Linked DNA regions of Homo sapiens: all the other regions are reported to be linked to region 1. The links are microRNA targets in miRTarBase. Many come from high-throughput screens and were not tested one by one. Region 1 holds a microRNA gene; each other region holds the end of a gene's coding sequence.

Region 1 (7,000 bases):
GCTCACTGCAACCTCCACCTCCCAGGTTCAAGCGATTCTTGTGCCTCAGTCTCCCGAGTAGCTAGGATTACATGCACACGCCACCTTGCCCGGCTAATTTTTGTATTTTTAGCAGAGATGGGATTTCACCATGTTGGCGAGGCTTGTCTCAAACTCCTGACCTCAAGCAATCCACCTGCCTCAGCCTCCCAAAGTGCTGGGATTACAGGTGTGAGCCACCATGCCCAGCTTCTACTCCCTCATTTTTGCCCCCACTTTTTCTCTTTTCTGCTCTCATTTTTCCTCTCCCTTGCCTGGCTTCAGGAGGGCCCCGGGTAAAAGCAGCATTGAGTGGCAGGACTCGGTGGGCTTAGGGGCTAAGCCCCACTCTGCTGCTAACTCACCACTTGGCTCTGAATGGGCACTCCCCATCTCTGCACCTTGGTTCCCTTGTCTCTGAGGTGGTGACAGTGCACAGGGGTACTGGAGGTTCTGAGGTTTGCGAGTGTGAAGTGAGGCACTGGCAGAGTTTGAATGAACTCCAGCCAGGGCAACAGGAAGGCCTTGAAGGTCGAGAAACAGGACTCATCTTCCCGCCTGAAGTGAGATGGAACAGGATTCAATCCCATTTGCCACACCTCCGTGAAGGAGTTAAATCCCTATTTGCCAGACTAGAAAACTGAGACCCAGACAGGGGAAATGAGGCACCCAAGATCACCCAGAATAGGGTCTTCAACCCAGGTCTTTGAACCCTGGTGTGGGCGCTTTTCAGATTTTTTTTTTTTTTTTTTTTTTAGATTCAGGGAGTACAAGCACAGGTTTCTTAACATGTCCATATTGTGTAGTGGTGAAGACTGGGCTTTTAGTGTACCCATCAGGTGTACCCAAAACTACCTATTATGTCCAATGTTCACTGAACTGTGAACTCACTGCCACTCACTGAACAGTGAACATTGTACCTAATAAATAATTTTTCAACCCTCACCCTCTTCCCATCCTCCCACCCTTCTGAGTCTCCAATGACTCTTATTCCATTCTGTATATCCATGGTTACACATTATTTAGCTCCCACTTATAAGTGAAAATATGCAATATTTGACTTTCTATTTCTGAGTCATTTCACTTAGGATAATGGCCTTCAGTTCCATCCATGTTGCTGCAAAAGACACGACTTCACTCTTTCTTACGGTTGAGTAGTATTCCATGGTCTATATACCACATTTTCTTTAGTCAGTCCTCTGTGGATGGACACTTACATTGATTCCATATCTTTGCTATTGTGAATAGTGTGGCGATAAACATGTGAGTGTAAGTATCTTTTTGATATAACGATGTATTTCCCTTTGGGCAGGTACCCAGTAGAGGGGTATTGTGGGATTGAAGGGTAATTCTGTCTTTAGTTCTTTGAGAAATCTCCATATTGCTTGCCACAGTGGCTGAAGGAATTTACATTCCCACCAGCAGTGTATGAGCATTCCCTTTTCTCTGCATCCTCACCAGTGTCTGTTGTTTTTTTCTTGAGATGGTGTCTTGCTCTCTTGCCCAGGCTGGAGTACAGTGGCACAATCTCGGCTCACTGCAATCTCTGCCTCCTGGGTTCAAGCGATTCTCCTGTCTCAACTTCCCAAGTAGCTGGGATTACAGGTGTAAGCCATCATGCCCAGCTAATTTTTTTGTATTTTAAGTAGAGACAGGGTTTCACCATATTGGCCAGGCTGGTCTCGAACTCCTGACCTTAAGTGATCCGCCCACCTCAGACTCCCAAAGTGCTGGGATTACAGGCGTGAGCCACCATGCCCAGCATGTTGTTTTTTGACTTTTTAATAATAGCCGTTCTGACTGGTGTGAGAGGGTACCTCACTGTGGCTTATTGCATTTCTCTGATGATTAGCAACACTAAGCATTTTTTCTTTTTTTCTTTTTTTTTGAGATGGAGTCTTGCTCTGTCATCTGGGCTGGAGTGCAGTGGCGTGATATCCGCTCGCTGCAAGCTCCGCCTCCTGGGTTCATGCCATTCTCCTGCCTCAGCCTCCCAAGTAGCTGGGACTACAGGTGCGTGCCACCACGCCCAGCTAATTTTTTGTGCTTTTAGTAGAGACGGGGTTTCACCATGTTAGCCAGGATGGTCTCGATCTCCTGACCTCGTGATCTGCCCGTCTTGGCCTCCCAAAGTGCTGGGATTACAGGCATGAGCCACTGCACCCGGCCACATTTTTTCATGTTTGTTGCCCTCTTGTATGTCTTCTTTTGAAAAATGTGAGTTCATGTTGGTGTGGGCTTTTCTGATCATCCACCTCTGTGCCCCAATCCCCAACCTCCCAACCCTCCTCCCACCTAGGTGGGGGCACTTTGCTGAGCATGGCCTACAACGTGCCCCATTCTGCCCCTTGCAGGATTATGACTTGCTTCTGATCTTCCTTTCTGATGAGAATGACAACCACCCCCTCTTCACTAAAAGCACCTACCAGGCAGAGGTGATGGAAAACTCTCCCGCTGGTAGGTGCTGGGCCCACCCGGGAGCTCCTGCTGTTGCCAGGCACCACTGGGGCCTGGGATGCCTGAGGACCTCCCTTATGCCTAACGGCATAGCTGAACCTAGACCCCAGTGGGTGCGGGAGGGGAAGGATGGGTGCAGCTCCGGGAGATGGTGGGCTGGGGCTCCCGGGCCTCCTATGAGCACAAAGAAGCCACAGGTCTGGTTGGAAGAGACAGTCGTGGTCATTGTTCCCCAGGGTGGTCTGAGAGCTGCCCCACCATCCCTCAAGAAGGGCATGTAAGGTGTGAGGACTACCCCGGAGGGGAGTGGGTCCACCCCTCACTGCTCCCTCCACCCCAGGAGTGCAGGGCATCCCAGGGCCTTCTGGAAGCCCTGGGGAGCATCTATAACTAGAAGTGGGAGGTCAGGGGGTCCTGGGTAGGCCAGTGTAGCCCTCTCCCCACACACATGCACTGACCAGGCTCACCTCCCTCCAGAGGGACAGAATCTCCTCTGTGATGTCCCCTGAGGTGGCACCTGCACTCCTCCAGTCTCCCCAGCCCCTGTTCCTCATCTCTGGCTGGGCATCCCCCCTAGGTGAATTTCATTCTTAAACCTGTCTGTGTGTATGCTCACACATGTGCCCGTGTGTGTCCATACCAAGGCATGTGCGTGGGGTTACACATGTGCACAGACACATATAGGTACATGGGTGCCCACTGATGCGCTCGTGTGCAGACATGCCCACCTGCAGAGGCACACGAGTGCACAACCAGGGAATCCCAGGCCTGTGCGTGCTCCTGGACAAGTGCCTGTGGCCATGTGAACACAGAACTTGATGCACACATGAGTGGGTTTTTCTAGTCATGTATGGCCAGGCCCCCAAAGGCAGAGCATTGTGTGAACACATGTGTTGACAGGCGAGACCCACACATGGGGAGGGGATGTCAGGGAGCCCCAGACCCTCCCGAGGAGCGGCCAGCCTCAAAGGCTGCTGGGAAGGCAGATGTGGCTCTGGGCAGCCGGGGCCTTGCTCACCACTCTCATGTTTTCTCCCCAGCAGGGCTTTGAGGCCGCTCCCCAGGCATCTGCGTTCAGTCTGCCAAGGCTGCCGCAGGCCCGCCCCCAGGGCCTCCCCACCCTGTCCACCTCACCTCCCTCCCCTCTCATCCATCGTCAGCCATGGCTCACCGGGACAGGGCAGGGGAGGTGGGAGGGCAGGGGGCTGGGTTGGTCTTGTGGTGACCCCTCTCCTTCTGGCCCAGGCACCCCTCTCACGGTGCTCAATGGGCCCATCCTGGCCCTGGATGCAGACCAAGACATCTACGCCGTGGTGACCTACCAGCTGCTGGGTGCCCAGAGTGGCCTCTTTGACATCAACAGCAGCACCGGTGAGGCCTCTGTGCCACCCAGCACTCCCAGCCTGATTCTGGGGTGGGGATGGCCACACTGCTGGATTGAGGGCCTCCCTTCTCAGTGCTGGACCCAGGCTGTCCGTGGAGACCCCATTTTTCACAGCCCAGAGTCCCCATCTTGCAGCTGGGTTATATCACCCAGTGGCCTGGCAGGGGGACGTGGGAAGAGGCTTGGAGACGATACACAGGACCTCTGTTGGTGCACGAACTCTCAGCCTGGGCCGGGAGCCCCCCAGCCCACTCCCGTCATCTCCCCATGCGCAGGCCAGAGGCTCAGGCCCCTAGTCCAGCAGAAGTAGCCAGAGCGACTTTCCTGTCCTCCAACCAGACCATGCCACATCCGTCTGGTCCTGGACAGGAGGCCGCTTTGGTGACAGGTGCCGACAGGAAAGCACATCTGTCAACAGAGACGGTCAACCCTGTGCCCTGGGTCACTCTTCCCAGGCAAGAGTCTTGAAGACAGCAGAGGGCACCTGCAGAGGGGACAACCACAGGAAATGCATGGGGCCCTCCCTCAGCACGGGTGGTTGAGCCTGTGGGGGAGAAAGTCATTTTGTTACTGCCTCTGCTCCTCTTTCATCTCTGTCCCATGGTGCCCCTGTCTTTCTCTGCTCTCTCCCTGTTGGTTCTTGCCCTGTCTTCCCACCGCACCCCTTTTCTGTGTGTTTCCCTGGCTGGCGGCACCGGGTGCCAGGTGTGGTGACCGTGAGGTCAGGTGTCATCATTGACCGGGAGGCATTCTCGCCACCCATCCTGGAGCTGCTGCTGCTGGCTGAGGACATCGGGCTGCTCAACAGCACGGCCCACCTGCTCATCACCATCCTGGATGACAATGACAACCGGCCCACCTTTAGCCCTGCCACCCTCACTGTCCATCTGCTAGAGAACTGCCCGCCTGGTAAGCAGGGGACAGGCCCCAGCACCCCACAACCAGGGGCCGGTTGGTGGTCACAGGGGACTGGAGCCTCAGGTTGGACACGGAGTTTGCCTCCAGTGGGGAGAAAGATGGGCAGCAGGGTGAGTGTAGAACACACTGGAGAGGGAGTCAGGAGACCTGGGCCCCTGCTTCCCTCCTCTGAGCTTCTGTATCTTGCCTGCAAAACAAGATTCTTTTTTCCTTTCTTTCTTTTTCTTTTCTTTTCTTTTTTTTTTTTTAAGACGGAGTTTTGCTCTTGTTGCCCAGGCTGGAGTGCAATGGCACAATCTCGGCTCACTGCAACCTCAGCCTCCCAGGTTCAAGTGATTCTCCTGCCTCAGCCTCCCGAGTAGCTGGGATTACAGGCGCCCACCACCACACCCAGCTAATTTTTGTATTTTTAGTAGAGACGGGGTTTCACCCTGTTGGCCAGGCTGGTCGCAAACTCCTGACCTCAGGTGATCCACTCGCCTCAGCCTCCCAAAGTGCTGGGATTACAGGTGTGAGCCACCACGCCTGGCCTACAAGATTCCTAAGTATTCTCCATTTGAATTCCCAGATGGAAAGACTGACTATTTTAAAGTCAAAATAGGATCAACATGATTCCCATCAAAATCAAATATAACTTCTGGAAGAATAAGAAAATTTTGAAAAACATAAGTATAATAAGCCAGATTTGGCTTACCAGATTTTATAACATATTATAAAGCTACAGTATTTAAGGCCATGCAATATGGGCACAAGACTCCAGGACAAAGTAGCCCAGAAACAGATACTGGTAAATTAAAGAATAAAATATGATGTGATAAAGGAAGCAATGAGGCCAATGGGGAAGCTACTTATTCAGTGTGCAAAAACCTATTTAATCTAATCAATTACATCCAATTATTATAATCTGTATGTAATCTAATATAATAATAATGTAATATTTAGTGTAGATTCTCCCCCATGTCAGACACCAAAATAAAAACCAAAAGAAAATATTAAAAAGTAGAAAACACTAAACAATAAATGAAGAAAACTTAGGTGAATAACTCATTTCTGGGTAAGAAGGTTCTAAGCATAAAAGAAAAGAACTTAAGAGGAAAAATATTAAATTTCTATGCATGCTAATTTAAACCTTGTTACATCAAATAATTATAGCCAATATTGAAAGGCAAACAACAAACCAAAAAGTATATTTGTCTTGGTCCAGGCGAGGTGGCTCACGCCTGTAATCCCAGCAATTTGGGAGGCTGAGGCAGGTGGATCACTTGAGGTCTGGAGTTCCAGACCAGCCTGACATGGAGAAACCCTTTCTCTACTAAAAATACAAAAAATTAGCCAGGCATGGTAGTGGGTGCCTGTAATCCCAGCTACTCAGGAGTCTGCTGCATAAGAATCACTTGAACCTGGGAAGCAGAGGTTGCAGTAAGCCGAGATCACACCACTGCACTCCAGCCTAGGTGACAGTGTAAGACTCCATCTAAAAAAAAAAAAAAAAAAAAAAAAAAAAAAAAATATATATATATATATATATATATGTCTCAAGTTGTCATAATTATGTGACTTGTATAATTGACAGAAAAATGGACAAAAGACAAAAGCAGACCATTTGCAGAAGATACAACTAATTATTACATTATAAAATATTGTTTAATCAAAGAATATAAAATAAAATAACATGCCATTTTCCTATAAAATTGCAAGTATGAAAAAGGTATAAAAGAAAATGCTGTCAAGGCTGTCATGAGAAGGGGACTTGAGAAGATCACCAACAAATGTGTCTTGGTAGATCTTTCTGGAAGAGGCCACTGTGCGCAGCTACTCCCTTTTCCCTCTCCAACAGGATTCTCAGTCCTTCAAGTCACAGCCACAGATGAGGACAGTGGCCTCAATGGGGAGCTGGTCTACCGAATAGAAGCTGGGGCTCAGGACCGCTTCCTCATTCATCTGGTCACCGGGGTCATCCGTGTTGGTAATGCCACCATCGACAGAGAGGAGCAGGAGTCCTACAGGCTAACGGTGGTGGCCACCGACCGGGGCACCGTTCCTCTCTCGGGCACAGCCATTGTCACCATTCTGATCGATGACATCAATGACTCCCGCCCCGAGTTCCTCAACCCCATCCAGACAGTGAGCGTGCTGGAGTCGGCTGAGCCAGGCACTGTCATTGCCAATATCACGGCCATTGACCACGACCTCAACCCAAAGCTAGAGTACCACATTGTCGGC
Region 2 (7,299 bases), not on the chromosome of region 1:
CCCATATAAAAATTAATTATAGTATAATGGACAATATTAGTATGTGATTTCTCAGGAACATCTTTTAGATTTATTTTGCCATACCTAATTTATTCTAGAAATCTCATATGTATTCTAGAAATACATAATGATTAGAACATTTTATGCCATTATCTATTCACATAGCTCCTTGTCTGCATATTATACTTCCTTTTGAAGAAGAAATGATTTTTTTTAATGTTAAAAACTTCTTCTCGCCTCTACTTTTTTTTAAGAAATAGAGTGCCACTGCACTCCAGTCTGAGTAATAGAGTGAGACCCCATCTCAAAAATAATAATTATAATAATTTATCCTCTACAGAATACTAATTGAGATGTGAAGGTAATTTTGCTGGGACTTCTGTTAATTATTTGATCAGCAGAGTTGATTCAATAGCAGTGTCATGTGCCTGTAGTCCCAGCTACTCAGAAGGCTAAGACAGAATGATCACTTGAGCGTGGGAGTCCCAGACCAGACTGGGCAACACAGTGAGACCCCATCTCTAAAAAAATGAAAAAATAAAATTATTAATTAGTGTCTCTATTCAGGAGATATTTTAACTTGAGGTTATTCTATTTCCTTTTGTCATAAGACTAACGGGTCTCTCAGTGTTTCTCACTTTTTGTTATTGATACCCAAAGATTATCATGTACGTACCAAAATGCTCTTTTATCTGTTAAAACCAACATACTGCTTATTGATTAAAAGTAAATCCTACTTTTCTTTCAGAGACTAATAGATTGGAATATATTTTTGTTTCAGCTTTCTGATGAGTTAAAAAGGTCCCAGAGATATATAGACACTGGAGTACTGGAAATTGAAAAACGAAAATCGTGTGTGTTTGAAAAGAAGAATGCAACTTGTATATTTTGTATTACCTCTTTTTTTCAAGTGATTTAAATAGTTAATCATTTAACCAAAGAAGATGTGTAGTGCCTTAACAAGCAATCCTCTGTCAAAATCTGAGGTATTTGAAAATAATTATCCTCTTAACCTTCTCTTCCCAGTGAACTTTATGGAACATTTAATTTAGTACAATTAAGTATATTATAAAAATTGTAAAACTACTACTTTGTTTTAGTTAGAACAAAGCTCAAAACTACTTTAGTTAACTTGGTCATCTGATTTTATATTGCCTTATCCAAAGATGGGGAAAGTAAGTCCTGACCAGGTGTTCCCACATATGCCTGTTACAGATAACTACATTAGGAATTCATTCTTAGCTTCTTCATCTTTGTGTGGATGTGTATACTTTACGCATCTTTCCTTTTGAGTAGAGAAATTATGTGTGTCATGTGGTCTTCTGAAAATGGAACACCATTCTTCAGAGCACACGTCTAGCCCTCAGCAAGACAGTTGTTTCTCCTCCTCCTTGCATATTTCCTACTGAAATACAGTGCTGTCTATGATTGTTTTTGTTTTGTTGTTTTTTTGAGACGGTCTCGCTGTGTCACACAGGCTGGAGTGCAGTGGCGTGAGCTCGGCTGACTGCAAACTCTGCCTCCCAGGTTTAAGCGATTCTCCTGTCACAGCTTCCCAAGTAGCTGGGATTTACAGGTGTGCACCGCCATGCCAGGCTAATTTTTGTGTTTTTAGTAGAGACAGGGTTTCGCCAAGTTGTCCAGGCTGGTCTTGAACTCCTGGGCTCAAGTGATCCGCCCGCCTCAGTCTCCCAAAGTGCGAGGATGACATGTGTGAGCTACCACACCAGCAATGTCTATGCTTCTCGATAGCTGTGAACATGAAAAGACATCTATTGGGAGTCCGAGGCAGGTGGATTGCTTGAGGCCAGGAGTTAGAGACCAGCCTGGCCAACAAGGCAAAACCCCGTCTCTACTAAAAATATGAAAATTAGCTGGGCTTGGTGGCTCATGCCTATAATCCTAGCTACTTGGGAGGCTGAGGCACGAGACTTGCTTAATACCTGGGAGGCGGAGATTGCAGTGAGCCGAGATCACGCTACTGCGCTCCAGCCTGAGTGATAGAGTGAGACTCTGTCTCAAAAAAAAGTATCTCTAAATACAGGATTATAATTTCTGCTTGAGTATGGTGTTAACTACCTTGTATTTAGAAAGATTTCAGATTCATTCCATCTCCTTAGTTTTCTTTTAAGGTGACCCATCTGTGATAAAAATATAGCTTAGTGCTAAAATCAGTGTAACTTATACATGGCCTAAAATGTTTCTACAAATTAGAGTTTGTCACTTATTCCATTTGTACCTAAGAGAAAAATAGGCTCAGTTAGAAAAGGACTCCCTGGCCAGGCGCAGTGACTTACGCCTGTAATCTCAGCACTTTGGGAGGCCAAGGCAGGCAGATCACGAGGTCAGGAGTTCGAGACCATCCTGGCCAACATGGTGAAACCCCGTCTCTACTAAAAATATAAAAATTAGCTGGGTGTGGTGGCAGGAGCCTGTAATCCCAGCTACACAGGAGGCTGAGGCACGAGAATCACTTGAACTCAGGAGATGGAGGTTTCAGTGAGCCAAGATCACACCACTGCACTCCAGCCTGGCAACAGAGCGAGACTCCATCTCAAAAAAAAAAAAAAAAGTAAGAAAGAAAAGGACTCCCTTAGAATGGGAAAGAAAAATCATAAAATATTGAGCTGATGCCTGTATATAGAAATTAAGCGTTTCTCGAAAGCTGTTCTATGTTTTGCTGTTATTTTAGTCTTTATTCTCTTCCTTTAGGTGGAGAAACAAAGTACCAATTTGAAGGGATTTTTTTTATTTTGTCTTTTGGTTTCTGTCAGTAGAAATAACCATATGTGCTAACCAAATTTCTGTGAAGAATGTTTTCATGGTTATCATTATATCTAACTATAACCTCCCCCATAGTTATGAAGAGTAACCTGAAATGCCACTATTGTGGAAATAGGATAATTGTAATTGTGAAAAAATAATTTTAAGGAAATCTTACAAGTATTACATTAAAAAGATACTATGACTGCCACCTGCCATTTACCTTCTAATAACCCTGCCATGTGGTTTGCAGAAAGAGATGGATATAGTAGCCTCAGAAGAAATATTTTATGTGGGTTTTTTGTTTTTCGTTACTAGATTTCATGGATGAGGGGATATGGTTGACCTTTTACTTTTTAATGGAGCAGCCAGTTTTTGTTAATTACTCACTTGTAAATTGTGAGATTCTGAATTCCTTACCTGCTATTCTTGTACTTGTCTCAGGCCAAATCTATGCTGTGGTTCTTATGAGACTTGTATGAAGATGCCCTGATTTGTACAGATTGACCACGGGAATACTACTGCCATGTAATCTGTATAGTTCCAGATAATTTGTCATGAACATTGACAGAATGACAATTTTTTGTATTTGCTTTTTCTCCCTTTAAGAGCACATTCTTCTGTAAGGAGAAAGGCAGCATTCTGGCTAAAATGTGTAGAAGGTAATTTACTACACTTATAAAATAGTGTGACTTTTGTGAAAATTTTGAATTAGCTTTCATATGAAGTGCCTTAAGTAGACTCTTCATTTACTTTTCTGGTAATGGTTTAAATATCATTTGTTATGCATTTTTAAGATACAGTTCAGAATGACACATTGTAGTGGCAAAGATAACCAAATGTCTGGCTGTTTGCTTTTTGACCATATCAATAAACTTTTACAATCTAAATTCTGAGTTTTTGATTACCATCTAAAGAGGAGTGAGTTTTAAACACTAAACTAGAATTGTAAAATTAGGATTTTACATTTTGAAGTTATAATTAAATTAATTTAAATTTCATATTGTCCTAAGGACAGTTTGATGGGACAGTTTCTTTAAGTATTTCTGGATTGGGATATATTATTCTAGGAATCTATACATGGTCCCTCATTCTTAATGTTGTTACCCATTAGGTGAGTCAAAACAACCAAGATGAGTAGATAAATGACTGTTTGCAACAATTGATCTACCTTTCGTCCCAGACAGTGAACATTCCTTGACTAGGTAATTTCCTTTTGATAATAAAAACTTGATTTGAAAGTTACCCTGGCAGATTATAAGTTATATGAAACTAGACAGCAGCTCTTTTGCAAACATGGAGTAGAAACACTGCACAGGAAGTAAAGAGATCTGGCTTTTAGCCCTTGCTCTGTTTCTGTCTAACTATATGACCATAGGTGTCACCTGAACCTCTCTGAACATATTTCTTTATACTAAGTAAAGTGTATTAGGCTAAATTACCTTAGTAGTCCTTCCTGCTCTATTGTTCTATTATGCAAAATATTAAAGATGCACTTAAATTTGAATAGATAATATTTTTATATCCAGATTTGGTGCTGAATTAAAATCAATTGAAATGGAGGATATTCTGCAGTCAGATTTCTGAAGAAGCTAGGAAATGCTGGTGGAGGCCATTATAACTACAAATTGCTTAATATGCATTGAAATATTTTTTGGAAAGGATGCACTTGGAACTCTATTAGACCGTTATTGCATTGCTCTAAAGAAATACCTGAGATTGGGTACTTTATAAAGAAAAGAGGTTTAATTGGCTCACAGTTCTGCAGGGTGTACAGGAAACATGATGCTGGCATCTGCTCAGCTTTTGGGGAAGCTTCAGGAAACTTACAATCATGGTGGAAGGCAAAGGGGGAGCAAGCACATCACATGGCCAGAGCAGGAGCAAAAAGGTGAGGGGAGTTGGCAGACACTTTTCAATGACCAGATCTCGCGATAACTCACTATCACAAGGACAGTACCAAAGGGATGGTACTAAACCATTCATGAGAAACCTGCCCCCATCCAGTCATTTCCCACCAGGCCCCACCTCCATCATTGGGAATTACAATTGAACGTGAGATTTGGGTGGGGACAAAGATCCAAACCATATCGGAACCCATATGTTAATAAGATTTTTTTTTTTTTGAGACGCAGTCTCGCATTGTCACGCAGGCTGAAGTGCAGTGGGGCAATCTCGGCTCCCTGCAGCCTCCACCTCCCGAGTTCAAGCGATTCTCATGTCTCAGCCTCCCGAGTAGCTTGGACTACAGGCAAACACCACCCCACGCCTGGCTAATTCTTGTATTTTTAGTAGAGACGGTTTCACCATGTTGACAAGCCTGGTCTCAAACTCCTGACCTCGGGTGATCCACCTGTCTCGCCCTCCCAAAATGCTGGGATTACAGGAGTGAGCCACCGCGCCCAACCTCGAGGTCTTGATTTACATGGGTTCTGCCCAATTCTGAGCAAGAATGAGATCAGCAACTGTAATAGTATGCTGTTACAACAGAAAGTCAAAGCCAAAAGGATCTTAGATACCATTTAAATCAGCCCCTTCATTTTGACTGCTGAAGAAACCTGCCATAGAAAAGTGAAGCAATTTACTGAAGTTTATTCCAGGGAAGTACCTACAGGTTTCCTCTTTAGCTGCAAATTCCCTATGGATTACATTTCAAGTGTAGATGCAAATTACTCCCTTGACGCTTGGAAACCATACTGTAGTTCAAGCTTATCCAACCCTCAGCCCATGGGCCGCATGCAACCCAGGATGGCTTTGAATGCAGCCCAACACAAATTCATAAACTTAATTAAAACATTATGAGTTTTTTTCTGATTATTTTTTAGCCCATCAGCTATCATTAGTGTTAGGGTACTTAATGGGTAGCCCAAGACAATTCTTCCAATGTGGCCCAGGGAAGCCAGAAGATTGGACACCCCTGCTGTAGTTTGTGCTCACTAGGTTTGCTTCCTGACATCTAGATTGCCTGGAGAAGAGTCCTAATGAGAGAGAGATTTCCCTAGAGGAGCTGAGCAGACTTCCTAAAGAGGAAGGAGTTTAATCTACCTTTAATCTGTGAATGTAGAATTTAGGTGGGGAGACTGTATATTAGGGTTCTGTAGAGGAACAGAACTAATAGGATAGATGTGTATATGAAGGGGAGTTTAGGCTGGGCACAGTGGCTCACACCTATAATCCCAGCACTTTGGGAGGCCCAAGTGGGTGGATCACTTTGAGGCCAGGAGTTCAACACCAGCCTGGCCAACATGAAACCCTATCTCTACTAAAAATACAAAAATTAGCCGGGCATGGTGGCATGCACCTGTAATCCCAGGATTACAGGAGAGGCTGAGGCAGGAGAAATCGCTTGAACCCGGGGGGCGGAGATTGCAGTGAGCCAAGATTGAGCCATTGCACTCCAGCCTGGGCAGCAGAGCAAGACTCTGTCTCAAAAAAAAAAAAAAAAAAAAGAGTGGGGGAGTTTATTAAGGAATATTGACTCACACAATCAAAAGGCGAAGTCCCACAATAGACCATCTGCAAGCTGAGGAGGAGCAAGGAAGTCAGCCCATGTCCCAAAACCTCAAAAGTGGGGAAGCCAACAGTGCAGCCTTCGGTGTGGCCGAAGGCCCAACAGCTCCTGGCAAACCACTGGTGTAAGTCCAAGAGTCTAAAAGCTGAAGAACTTGGAGTCCAATGTTCCAGGGCAGGAAGCATCCAGCACGGGAGAAAGATGAAGGCCAGAAGACTCAGCAAGTGAAGTCTTTCCACGTTCCGCCTGCATTTATCCTAGCCATGCTGAGAGCAGATTAAATGGTGCCCACCCAGATTGAGGGTGGGTCTACCTCTCCCAGTCCACTGACTCAAATGTTAAATCTCCTTTGGCAACACCCTCACAGACACACTCAGGAACAATACTTTGCATCCTTCAATCCAATCAAGTTGACACTCAGTCATCACAGAGGGAGGTAGCTGGCAAGATGGCCAAATAGGAACAGCTCTGGTCTGCAGCTCCCAGCGAGATCAACGCAGAAGGCAGGTGATTCCTGCATTTCCAACTGAGCCTCCTCTAGTGATACCCAGGCAAGCAGGGTGTGGAGTGGACCTCCAGCAGACTCCAGCAGACCTGCAGCAGAGGGGCCTGACTGTTAGAAGGAAAACTAACAAACAGGAATAGTATCAACATCACCAACATCAAAGACCGAAGGTAGATAAATCCACGAAGATGGAGAGAAACCAGCGCAAAAAGGCTGAAAACTCCAAAAACCAGAACACCTCTTCTCTTCCAAAGGGTCACAACTCCTCACCAGCAAGGGAACAAAACTGGACGGAGAATGAGTTTGATGAATTGACAGAAGTAGGCTTCAGAAGGCAGGTAAAGACAAACTCCTCCGAGCTAAAGGAGCTTCATGTTGTATTTATGTTTAGAGAAGAACATAAATGACCTGATGGCGCTGAAAAACACAGCACAGGAACTTCATGAAGCATACACAAGTATCAATAGCCGAATCGATCAAGTGGAAGAAAGGATATCAGAGATTGAAGATCAACTCAATG
Region 3 (7,299 bases), not on the chromosome of region 1:
CAAAAGCCTCAAACTATTACCTCTAGTCCCTTTCCCAGACAGTAAAACTACTCGTTAAAAGTATTTTTTTTCTATTTTCAGAAGACCGTTTAAGCCTGTAGGTAGTGTTTGGCTGAAACTTGACAAAACAAAAGGGAAAGAGCAAAATAATTCTCAGCTGTGAAGAGGATGTATTTATTTATTGATTTATTATTTTCTAGGTTTGCTCATTTTGTTTTATCTTTTAAATTGTAGGAAGCTTATGTGCAGAAAATGGTTAAAGTGTGCAATGACTCTGACCGATGGAGTCTTATATCCCTGTCAAACAACAGTGGCAAAAATGTGGAACTGAAATTTGTGGATTCCCTCCGGAGGCAGTTTGAATTCAGTGTAGATTCTTTTCAAATCAAATTAGACTCTCTTCTGCTCTTTTATGAATGTTCAGAGAACCCAATGACTGAGACATTTCACCCCACAATAATCGGGGAGAGCGTCTATGGCGATTTCCAGGAAGCCTTTGATCACCTTTGTAACAAGATCATTGCCACCAGGAACCCAGAGGAAATCCGAGGGGGAGGCCTGCTTAAGTACTGCAACCTCTTGGTGAGGGGCTTTAGGCCCGCCTCTGATGAAATCAAGACCCTTCAAAGGTATATGTGTTCCAGGTTTTTCATCGACTTCTCAGACATTGGAGAGCAGCAGAGAAAACTGGAGTCCTATTTGCAGAACCACTTTGTGGGATTGGAAGACCGCAAGTATGAGTATCTCATGACCCTTCATGGAGTGGTAAATGAGAGCACAGTGTGCCTGATGGGACATGAAAGAAGACAGACTTTAAACCTTATCACCATGCTGGCTATCCGGGTGTTAGCTGACCAAAATGTCATTCCTAATGTGGCTAATGTCACTTGCTATTACCAGCCAGCCCCCTATGTAGCAGATGCCAACTTTAGCAATTACTACATTGCACAGGTTCAGCCAGTATTCACGTGCCAGCAACAGACCTACTCCACTTGGCTACCCTGCAATTAAGAATCATTTAAAAATGTCCTGTGGGGAAGCCATTTCAGACAAGACAGGAGAGAAAAAAAAAAAAAAGAAAAAAAAAAGAGTGATCCAGCCCTTATTAGGGATGTGTTTTGTGCAATGATGATATGCTCCTGGTTTTAAGTTTGGCAAAGCTTATGTATCTTTTAATAGATGTGGGAGCATGATCTCGAAAGGATCCTTTTCCCTTCTCTTATTCTCCTACCCAATTGGATTCTATCCTGCAAAAAAAGAGAGACCTGTCATTAGAAGCAACCAGGTTCTCCTGATACAAGAGAAGAAATGTGTGATGACAATATGGGTTTGCTGTATCTGCTCCCATAGCTTTGCCATAGGAAAAAAAAAAGTGGAAAGTTTCTTTTAAGATGGAATTCATAAAAGGGAAAATACGGAGGAAAAAAGGTCTCACTCCAACTTGTGAATCAGTTTAGGAGTTCAGATATTAATAGTAACAATACAGGAAAAAGGGGAACTCCAACGTTGGGATTACTGTCTGAGGCTTGTAGCAAGTGCTTTCTGTGGAATGATCTTGTTTTGCTAACAAACGGCTTGCTCCAAATGAACAGTAGTAGGTTGGTGCAGTTCTCGTAACAATCAGCAGAACTTATGATGACACAATCCATTAATTCCAGCTGCGTGCATAGATCACATTTTTAAAATGTAAAAATGCAAGCAAAAACAGCTGTAACAAAGAAAGTGTGCTCAAGGACCAAAGATTTAACAGATAAAAATACCCAATTAGAAGAGATATAGTAGACTATATGAAGAGAGATTATATTTGTTACACACCAATATACATCAAAGTGCCTGTTGCCTTCTGAAAATTTGAAGTGGCAAAATTATTTTATGGTTTAATGATTATTTTATTTTATCAGGGACTGCCTCAAGAAGAAAATAACATAAGCTTGTGAATGGTGGAGAAAATGCCCTATTTTTTCTTGCAAATACTTGTATAAAGTTAACATTTGTTGATCTGATATTATCATAGGTACATGTGTATGTGTGTATAAATTATATGTGTGTGTGTATATATACATTTTATATATACATTTTATATGTATATATACACAGTAGATTGACTATGATCTAGAATAATGTCTCAAATAGGAAATGTTTAAATACTGTGTGTTTTTATGTTTTCAACAGGATAACATGAGACGTGGGCATATTGCAATGATGAATTAAATCCACATCTAAAAAAATTAAATGAAGGAGGGAACCAAGTAATATATTTCATAGGAAGAGCAGAAATTATACTGTTTTAGTGGGATTTTTTTTTCTTTTTTTTTTTTTCTTTGGTGAGCCATAAAATTCCACAAATGGGAGAATATTTGTTTGGCAGAGCACTCTTTTTTATATTGAACTGCCATTTTGACAGTTGGAACCCATTTATTAAAAAAAAAATTGCATTCCTCTATGATGTTTAATCTAGTGGATCATGGATCAGTAATAGGCTACTTAAATCCCTGACTGCTAAAAAGGATTTCCGGTGATCTAAACACTACTTGCTAATGTTTAAATGAATTTTAATGAATGCATTCTGCATTTCTGGACCACTAGAATTTAGTAATGTGAAATGACCCTTTTTACAGAATATTTGCACAATTGCTTAAAATTTATATATGAGATATATATTATATATAACATTTTATAAATCATGTCAATATGAAACATCTTTGATCTGGTTGTCACACTGCATTTAAATATTTAGTACTGTACTTTAAATCGCTTTCCATTAAATCAAATCCAACTTTATTTTCTTTCTTACAAAAATACCAGTTATACCTTTGTGAAATGAACTGGCATTACTATTTCAGTTCAATAACAGCTAATCCTAAAACCACCCTTTCTCCTAGCCAGTAGTTCCTCTAGATACTGGTCTCTGAAAATGCATTTGTTAAAAACAAAACAAAACTAACACATAAGAACCTTCCCTTTGTGTTGTGAAACAACCACATAATCTCCACAACCTTAGTGGATGACTGCTTGCTATGATAATTCCTCGAAGACCCAATTAGAAGATTTTCATCATCAGTTAAAGAGAGACCACGGGAGAAAAAAATATCCTCCTGTTGGCAGTATAATTTGTTTGTTTGTTTATCTAGGGATCCTCAGATGCTTAGTGCTAGGTTAATCCAGGTTAATCCGTCTGGACTACCTTTTGTGCATCTTTCTTTGAAGCCTTAATGGGAACCTGATGGGTTTGCTGTAGCAGCTTCCTTGTGAATTCTGTCAGAGCTGCAACAGCCGCTGCACTGCCACTCAGTTTTCTAAGGAACTCCTCCTACTACCATCTTGGCTCAGTCTCCCTCACTTAAGCCCTGGGTTTGAAAAATTAATTGCAACTTCCCAGGAAACATTGTTCAGTTTGCAGATTAAGCCTGGCACTCACCTATCAGAAACCAGAGCTCCGCCTGCTTAGTTGTTTCAAAGTTTTCTGAAAGAAAACTAGGGGAGCACTTGTGAACACAGGAGCAGCTGGTGATCTGCTTTCTTACCCTAACTCTTGACAAATGAGTCGTCTACTATTTTAAAGAGTCTGGAGGTCTCTGACTCTGCCATAACAATAACCTGCTGTTAATTTATAACACAGATTTTTGTTTGGAAGAGCCTTATTTGAAATACACTTTGATTTATTTTCTTAAATATTTATATTCTTTTCTTGCTTACTTCAGGGTTGGTAGCTTAGTTGGAAGTGCCAGCACCTGGCACCTATTCATATAGAACAGGCTGTACTCAAGACAACTTCTAGCATTTACTTTAAGACTTATATAATTTATTTCTATTTTGTGTGTACTATAGTCTTGTGCATATGTAGTTGAACACACAGTGAAATATATGTCTCTCTTTGTGGATGTGCGGCCTAAAAATTTGAATGTCTGGTGAGAGAGAGCCATGTGTATAGGTCAGAGAAAAGAACAGCTCCCGACTCCCTATTAGCGCCTGTGATTTGTTTCCTTTTGTGTTTATCTGGCCTAGTGTGCTGTTTCTTTAAACCAGGAAGAAGTTTTGTCTTTTGGAGGCTCTTCTCACCTGTCCAGCCTGGCATGTCAGAGAACACATAGCCTGTGACAATGCCGTTTTTAAAGGTTTACTTAATTTGCAGTAAATCCAGCTGCCTCAAGAACTCCTACACCAAGATGGACATTTCCTTTCCAGAAATGGGATCAAGTATCTGCTCACTTTGGTATTGGATGGACTAATAATGTAGCTCCAAAAATGCAAGGATGGAAGAATATGTGTAATCCAAACCAAGGAAGGAAATGAAAAGTGAACGTACTGTTTTTACCACCCCTTTCTGTTTGCTTATTGTTGGTTGCTTCACTGTGCATAAAGTTGTTTTCAATGCAACGCTTGTTAAATAAATATTGTGAACTATTTTGTAAATGAAATGTATTATGTTGAAAGCTGTCAGTTCAAAAATAAGCTTTTTTGTTGTTGTTGAAGATGAAGTGTGTTAGGTGAAACCAAAAAGCCAAAAAAAGTAATTTCATATATAGCATCTATTTGAATATAATCTTTCTTTAAAATTTCTTTTAGCATAGCATTTTCAGTGCTAAGAAAGAATCTCTATGTTATATTTTGTTAAAATAATGGCTTTCTAACAAAGCAAATGGTAAAGTACAAAGTTGGAAGATGTCAAGTTAACGAGACTTGCTGCAAAGCCTTGCAGAACGGAGGAGGCTCTGCCTGCTGGCTGTCTCTCCCTCCAACCTCTCTACAATCATGCCTGCTTTGAGGTGTTCTGTTGCAGCAAGCTGCACCTTGGGTCACTCTTTTGGAATATTTTGACTATAGGCTGCGTCACAGGCAGAAAAGGAGTTGATGGAAAATGGACTAAAAAACTGACATGTTTGAATCAGTGCTAGAGGGAACAGATTGTGAATTTTGTTTACAGCATCCAATATTTGGATTTTTTTGTAAATAAAAAAGTTATTTTTTTCTATTGATTTGTGTTTGCTGTCTACAATGTCTGTATTGACTAAAGACCATGTCCTTTGAATCCCAACCCACGTCCTTTAGAAAAGGCAGAGCGGTACATAGAGAAGAGTAGCCTTCAGCCACTTTCTGATTGAAGCACAATAAATGAAAACATCCAGCTGTCAGTCAGCCCATCTCTGACTGGCTCAGTTAGCTCCAAAAGCATCTAGCTAATAGATGCCAACAATTTTTTTGTCTGGGTATCAATTTAGCAGTGTTAAGTGACCAGAAGTCAGAACTGTTTTCCGATATCAGTAGAGACTCATGGCTCTAGTAGGCTGTAGGGCTCTAGTAGCTCTGCGTGAGCCTTGGTCTTCCTGAGTAGCCTTAGGGCTGTGATTTCATCAGTGGTTATATAGATTCTGTTCGAGGCTCTATAGTGTTATTCAGAGTTTTTACGTTGGGGTGAGAGGAATTGGTGGCCAGGAATTGAAAGAGGAAGTATAGAGAAGGAAGAGCAATCAAAAGATCTAGTATGTTCTGTGTGTGTGTGTGTGTGTGTGTGTGTGTGTGTGTGTGTTGGGTGCAAGGAAATCACCCTTTTGTCTAGCATTTAATGTAACCTCACCTATTCAAATTGCTAGGGGGCATACATTTATGTATTAATTAAAATTTTTCTTAGTGTAATTTTGGAGATGGTCTCAATGCTAGTAGTATGAGAATTTGGTAAGCCCAGGCTACTATAGGATATACATGTGGTTGTAAAAACCACTTAAAGTCTTGATCTTGAATAGAATGCATGCTTGACACCGAGTCTGTGAAAGAGCAACTCTTGGCATTGAAAACCAGCTTCCTTCCCGTATACAGTGCATCATAAAAATACAAGGTGGTTATTTGGTTTGATAATGGTATTTGTGTGTCATTTTCTTCTTCCTTTGTTGCAGCCTCTTCATTCTACAGCCAGTTCCTCATATGTCTGTGGTCACCACATAATTATTTTTAAACAATGGTTGAATAAGAGCAGTATATATTAAACTTCTCCTAGGCTTAGATATACCCTGCCATTTCTAGTTGAATTACTAGGCTGCCCCTCCTAGCTGAGCCTGGAGAGAAGTAATCCACCCTTCCTTTCCTTAGTAACCTCATTCCCTAAACTTCTAATTCCTTTAGTAAGAAAAAGAAAGAACAAAATATACCAAAAAAGAAAAATAAATTAATATCATAGTTTTTAAATATAAAGTAGAATAAGGTTTGTTAAAATCAAGTAATTCCAAAATTAAACTCTAATTTTCTTTAAAGGACCAAGTTTGAGATCAACAATATGAACACAGTATCCTTCAGTCTAATAGCAAATACATCACGTAGGACCGAGGGAGGAGAAATGATTTTAAAATGACAGTGGCTTTTACCTAGCATGACTCAGATCTTGGTTTCTAATGCCATTCTCCAATAAAAGGAACTAGAAGTTGAATCTATGTCTGGAGCAGGAAATATATAAGAGAAGCCTGAAGCATCTTGTGGTGCCTTGAGAAAGCATAAAAAAAAGATAAAAATCATAATGATGAGGGTGGCAGGGGTATGTCAAAGGGACATAGGAGCTAACTGAAAGAGCTCCAATAGCCAAAGCTGGAACAATTTAAGCAACAAAATAAATAGTAATGGATTATAACACAACGAGTAAAGTATCCATGCATTCACACTGATATAAATAAATGATTGAATGAACAAATGGAGGGAAAGAAATTTACTGTGCAGGATTCCAAATAATCAATGTAGATATTGGCCCTTCAAGGAGGTGGAGGTTAACTACCCACCTCTTAAGTGTAGGCTGTGCATAGTGACTTATGTCCAAAGATTACAATCTGGAAAAGGGAAAAAGAAGAGTACTGTACCATTGCAAAAACCGAACAAACACTACCTCAGCCAGCTGATCAAGGCCAACATAAGTAGTGACAAGTCATGATGATAGTATGTGCCCTTGTTGTGATGTGATAAGAATGGCACTTCACCTCTGTGGTTTTTTCCTCAACACTCTAAAACCTGCCAAATCTTGAGAACAGCATCATCCAAAACTAAATTGTGGGGCATTCTGTAAAATACTGGACCAGTATTCCTTAAATTATTAAAACAAAGAAAGTGTGAAAACTGCCATTGCCAAGAGGAGCCTAAAGAGACATATGACTTAAGTGTAATGTGGGATCCTGGTGGGGTCTGGCAACAGAAAAGAGCACTTGGTAAAATCTAAGGAAATCTGAAGCAAGCATTATTGAAATAATAATGGTTCAATATCAGCTCATTAGTTGTAACATGTAGTATGATGTCGACAAAAGGAGAAACTGGGTATGGGGTATA

The links. The annotated mature microRNA hsa-miR-7152-5p reads UUUCCUGUCCUCCAACCAGACC and lies in region 1 at 4,180-4,201, shown strand. An mRNA with a match to its seed (bases 2 to 7 or 8) in the 3' UTR can be bound and repressed. Matches are read on the target gene's strand: a 7mer-m8 pairs with bases 2 to 8, a 7mer-A1 pairs with bases 2 to 7 and ends in A, and an 8mer does both.
Region 2: the mRNA of MAGT1 is a reported target of hsa-miR-7152-5p. Seed matches in the 3' UTR shown: 7mer-m8 at 4,078-4,084.
Region 3: the mRNA of TENT5A is a reported target of hsa-miR-7152-5p. Seed matches in the 3' UTR shown: 8mer at 1,483-1,490 and 7mer-A1 at 3,377-3,383.

What each region holds. Positions count from the first base shown.
Region 1 is chr10:71,786,568-71,793,567 of GRCh38, forward strand. MIR7152 (microRNA 7152) reads left to right here and starts at 4,180; the gene lies at 4,180-4,233. It overlaps CDH23 (cadherin related 23), which reads left to right. Exons shown (of 70, transcript NM_022124.6): 45 at 2,373-2,475; 46 at 3,721-3,846; 47 at 4,565-4,768; 48 at 6,615-7,000. RefSeq lists an enhancer at 3,721-4,620.
Region 2 is chrX:77,822,718-77,830,016 of GRCh38, reverse strand. MAGT1 (magnesium transporter 1) reads left to right here. Exons shown (of 10, transcript NM_001367916.1): 10 at 782-4,270. The coding sequence ends at 797. Among named protein-coding and RNA genes, the nearest start is that of ATRX, 40 kb to the right of the region's middle.
Region 3 is chr6:81,743,407-81,750,705 of GRCh38, reverse strand. TENT5A (terminal nucleotidyltransferase 5A) reads left to right here. Exons shown (of 3, transcript NM_017633.3): 3 at 235-4,976. The coding sequence ends at 1,011. Among named protein-coding and RNA genes, the nearest start is that of TENT5A, 5.6 kb to the left of the region's middle.